Linked DNA regions of Homo sapiens: region 1 is linked to region 2. Evidence: fine-mapped expression QTL. Tissue or cell type: whole blood. Region 2 holds a variant in brackets; the other region holds the start of a gene. All regions are shown on one strand. Distances are between the middles of the regions.

Region 1 (2,683 bases), 600 kb before region 2:
AGAATTCACAAGGATGGATGCTTGGATACGAATCAGTAAAATATGATTAAAACTCAACCTAAACACTTCTCCAGGGGATGTGGCCAAACTGTGGCATGCTGGGGATTCAGTGGTCAACTGAACAACCCCAAGGTTCAGATTTTGGAGGGGAACCTGCTTTTAAAGAGCAAAACATGTTCCTTACCATGTTCTGCAAGTGCAGTCAACACACGCCTATCGGGCGCTGCTGGGATGCCAAGGAAGGTGATGGGAATTCAGAGATTAACCAAGCCAGTTCCTTCCCCTTCAGGAAAAGCCTCAATTCAGGGAGGAAACCGAAACCTAAAAGCCCCAGAACATCCTCTGATGTGGCAAGTGTTCAAGGAGCTGCGGTTAGCGCGGAGGGGTCCCGCGAGCCTGGATGACAGCAAGCCGCCCACCAAGGTCTGGGGAAAAATCTCCTTCTAACTAAAAAAAAGGGACCCGAGTCTCGCTTGTCCCGCGCCGGGGTGGCAAGTTAGTGAAGAAACCCACGAGAGTGAGATCCCAATCTACGACTGCCCCTCCCAGGTCCTCAATCCCGGGAGCCTGCTCCCATCCTACGAATCGCCTATCCCAGGCGACCCCATGTCTTCTTCCTCCGCCTCGGGGAGTCAGTCCCGGGAGCCCCATGCCGCAGGCCCTCCTGGGAACCCCCGCCGCAGGGCTCCCTCCCCCGCCTCGGGTCTTCCTTTCCTCGGCGCCCCCAGCGCAGGTCCGCCCTCCCGGGTGCCTCCCGCCGCAGGGCTCGCTCCTCGGCCTCGGTCCTCTCGTGGGGCCCCCTCCCTCAGGGCGCCTGGCCCGCGCCCCAGGTCGCCGCCCTTCGCCCCTCAGCCCCTCCGGAGCCGCTACCTCGGATGTTCTTCAGCAGCACCGGCTCTTCAAAGCCACCGCGCCTGAGGAAGGAGCACACCTGCTCCGGACCCCATGTCTTGTAGTCGGGATGGAGTTCCAGGCCCGGGGACCAGTCTGCCTCTGCGGAAGGGGTGTTTGAGGGGGTTCTCGGGCTGTCATCGCAACGGGGACGCTTGGAGGGCTGCTCGGAATCGGCTCGCTGCATGGCTACACCTGGCGTCCGGCACAGCAGTCAAGAACCTCGGCGCCGGACCCGCGCGCAGGCGCACTGACAGCAGGGCCCTGGCGGGGAGTCCAAGGAGTATTGGCAGCCTATTGGCCTCCTGCGCAGGCTCACTGACAGTTGAGCCCTTCGGGCAGGGCAGCCTAGCGGCTCTTGCCTTGGGCTCCCTGCGCAGGCGCAATGGCAGTCCAGTCGTCCTCAAATCAATCCCGCCAGGGCGCTGGACGTGAACGCGAAAGGGCGTGGCTAGAAGCAGAACTGAGGGCAGTGCTGGTGGAAAGGGGGAGGAAAGAGCGCGCCCGGCACCGCACCCCCAATTAGGGGCTCGTCTAGTGAATTGGGGGTATTCTCCTTCGAATGAGTACACTACCCGCCGCACCTTGGCCGGGTTTCAGATGCCCCAAACTTAAAAGAAGCCTAAAAGGCCGTCAGGCTGCCAGCACCTTCCCAGTGAAGAGGAAAACAGTCAAGGTGCTGAACTGGAAGAACCCGGAATGATTTCAAATGTGACTTGAGGGTGTCTTCATTCCACAGTATTGCTGGTCAACTAGAGGGCCCTGGGATACCTGTTGTCTGGTGTCCACACAGGAGGGGACTTCAGACTTCTTTCCAACTAGAGACAGAGCCCTCCATCCCAACTGCATTCCCAGAGGAAGGAAAGTGGCCAGTCTGATTACTTAAAATTTAACTTCTGAGGACTTTTACTGCCTGGTTGTAACAGCATGTGAAAATGGCAGGCATTTTCCCATCACTTAACCCCTCTGCGGCAGGGCTCAAACTTCCCTATAAATACTGGTCCATGCAATTGCCTGGTAAAAGGACATATCACTATTACTGTTAATAAAGCCAACACACCTTCCCAGCAACCAAGGCATAGACCTGTTTAGGGGGTCAAGGACGAATGAGGCGGAATAGCTTATCATCAAGCAGTATGAACTAGTGGTCTACTGGTGAGCCAAAATATTATTTGCAAACAGAGCTTTACTGTGTGCCAGGCACGGTTCTAAGGGCTTTACAAATATAAAATAATTTTATATTTATACATAATACTAAATGAATTAAGTACATTCATTAAATTATTTAAATATTAAATAATTTTTATAACTTCTAAGGGTTTTACAAATATTGTAAAGTTCTAAGGGCTCTACACATATTACTTCACTTAATTATCACAATTACCTTAGGATGTAGGAAAAAGTAATTTGCCGCAGGTCTTCTTTTTTTTTTTTGAGACGGAGTCTTGCTCTGTTTCCCAAGCTGGAGTGCAGTGGCGTGATCTCAGCTCACTGCAACCTCTGCCTCCCAGGTTCAAGTGATTCTCATGCCTCAGACTCCCAAGTAGCTGGGACTACAGGCGCCTGCCACCACACCTGGCTAATTTTTGTATTTTTAGTAGAGACAGGATTTCACCATGTTGGCCAGGCTGGTCTTGAACTCCTGACCTCAGGTGATTCCCACACCTCAGCCTCCCAAAGTGCTGGGATTACACAGCCGTACCCAGCTGCCCAAGGTCTTACAGCTAGGAAATGATGAAGCCTGTATTCAAACCCAAGAGATGTAACTTGGTTCCAAAGTCCATGGTCTTGA
Region 2 (2,683 bases):
AAGTCTTACTTAAAAAATATTTGCCCAGACCAATGTCCTGAAGGATTTCCCCAATGCTTTTTTTTTTTTTTTTTAATTTTTTTAGTATTTATTGATCATTCTTGGGTGTTTCTCAGAGAGGGGGATTTGGCAGGGTCATAGGACAATAGTGGAGGGAAGGTCAGCAGATAAACATGTGAACAAAGGTCTCTGGTTTTCCTAGGCAGAGGGCCCTGCCGCCTTCCGCAGTGTTTGTGTCCCTGGGAACTTGCGATTAGGGAGTGGTAATGACTCTTAACGAGTATGGTGCCTTCAAGCATCTGTTTAACAAAGCACATCTTGCACCGCCCTTAATCCATTTAACCCTTAGAGGACACAGCACATGTTTCAGAGAGCAGGGGGTTGGGGGTAAGGTTATAGATTAACAGCATCCCAAGGCAGAAGAATTTTTCTTAGTACAGAACAAAATGGAGTCTCCTATGTCTACTTCTTTCTACACAGACACAGTAACAATCTGATCTCTCTTTCTTTTCCCCACATTTCCCCCCTTTCTATTCGACAAAACCGCCATCGTCATCATGGCCCGCTCTCAATGAGCTGTTAGGTGCACCTCCCAGATGGGGTGGCGGCCGGGCAGAGGGGCTCCTCACTTCCCAGACGGGGCGGCTGGCCGGGGGGGGGCTGCCCCCCACCTCCCGGACGGGGCCAATGTTTTCTTCTAATAGTTTCATAGTTTCAGGTCTTTTATTTAAGCCTTTACTCTATTTCTATTTGATTTTTATATATGGTAAAATATATAAAGTTGTCTAGTTTCATTCTTCAGCATATGAATATTCAGTGTTCCCAGCACTATTTAATGAAGAGACTATTATTAATATTTCTCCAACGTATGCTTTTGGTGCCTTTGTCAAAAATGAGTTGGCTGTAAAGGCATGGATTTATTTCTGGGTTCTCTATTCTGTTCCACTGGTCTAAGTGTCTGTTTTTATGCCAGTACCACGCTGTTTTGGTTAACTTTGTAGTATATTTTGAAGTCAGCTAGTGTGATACTACCAACTGGTTTTTTTGCTCAGGATTTCTTTGGTTATTTGGGGTCTTTTGTGGTTCCTTATACTTTTTTTTTTTTTTTTTTAAAGATGGAGTTTCGCTCTTGTTGCCCAGGCTGGAGGGCAATGGTGTGATCTTGGGTCACCGCAACCTCCG[C/A]CTCCCGGGTTCAAGCGATTCTCCTGCTTCAACCTCCCGAGTAGCTAGGATTACAGGCATGCAACACCACACCCAGCTAATTTTGTATTTTTAGTAGAGATGGGGTTTCTCCATGTTGGTCAGCCTGGTCTTGAACTCCTGACCTCAGGTGATCCACCCACCTTCGTCTCCCAAAGTGCTGGGATTATGGGCATAAGCCACCATGCCTAGCCCCTTTACACATTTTAGTATTGTTTTCTCTTATATCTGTGAAAAATGTCATTGGAATTTTGATGGGGATTACATTGAATCTGTAGATTGCTTTTGGTAGTATGAATATTTTAACAATATTAATTCTTCCAATCCATGAACATGTGATAATCTTTCCTTTTTTTTGTGTATGTGTGTACTCTTCAACTATTTTTTTCTTTCTTTCTCTTTCTTTCTTTCTTTCTTTCCTTCTCTCTTTCTTTTTTTTTTTTTTTGAGACAGGGTCTCACTCTGTTGCTTAGGCTGAAGTGCAGTGGTGGCATGATCATGGCTCACTGCAGCTTCAACCTCCCAGGCTCCAGCGATCCTCCTACCTCAGCCTCATGAGTAGCTGGGACCGCAGGCATGTGCCACCATGCCCAGCTAATTTATGTGTTTATTTTTTGTAGAGATGGTATCTCCCTATGTTGCCCAGGCTGACCTTGATCTCCTGGGCTCCAGTGATCCTCCTGCCTTGGCTTCCCAAAATGCTGGGATTACAGGCACTGTAGCCAGCCCTTCCTCTTCAATTTCTTTCATCAGTGTTTTATAGTTTTCATTGTAAAAATCTTTTACTTCTTTGGTTAAATTTATTCCTAGGTATTTTTTGTGGCTATTGTAAATAGAATCACTTTCTTAATTTTTTTTCAGATTGTTTGTTGTTGGCATATGTAAATGCTACTGATTCTCGTATGTTGATTTTGTATCCTGCAACTTTACTGAATTTCCTTATCAGTTCTAAAAATATCTGGTATCTTTACATTTTTCTAAATATAAGATTGTGTTGTCTGCAAACAAGGAAAATTTGACTTCTTTCTTTCCAATTTGGATGCCCTTAATTTATTTCTCTTGCCTAACTGCTCTGGCTGAGACCTAAAGTGAGAATCTCTGCCTTGTTCCAGATCTTAGGGGAAATACTTTCACATTTTCCCTGTTCAGTATAAAGTTAGCTTTGAGTTTTTTATACATAGCCTTTATTGTTTTGAGGTATGTTCCTTCTACAAAAACTGCTGAGTTTTTGTTATAAAGGGATGCTGAATTTTATCAAATGCTTTTTCAGCATCTATTAAAATGATCACATGGCTTTTGTTCTTGAATCTGTTAATGTGATGTGTCATGTCTTTCGATTTGCATATGTTGACTCATCCTTGTATCTCTGGAATGAAACCCACTTGATCATGGTGAGTGATGTTTTTAATGTGTTGGTGGATTTGATTGCTAGTATTTCATTGAGGATTTTTGCATCTGTGTTCATAGAGATATTGGCTGTGGT

The links. PIP is the estimated chance that this variant, and not a neighbour inherited with it, causes the effect.
Region 1: SAMHD1 starts here. The variant in region 2 is fine-mapped to the expression of SAMHD1 in whole blood (INTERVAL, PIP 0.97).

What each region holds. Positions count from the first base shown.
Region 1 is chr20:36,950,566-36,953,248 of GRCh38, forward strand. SAMHD1 (SAM and HD domain containing deoxynucleoside triphosphate triphosphohydrolase 1) reads right to left here and starts at 1,143. Exons shown (of 16, transcript NM_015474.4): 1 at 871-1,143. The coding sequence starts at 1,078. RefSeq lists a silencer at 638-857.
Region 2 is chr20:37,550,069-37,552,751 of GRCh38, forward strand. No RefSeq gene overlaps it. Among named protein-coding and RNA genes, the nearest start is that of LINC01746, 20 kb to the right of the region's middle. The variant C/A (reference allele first, on the strand shown) is at 1,183.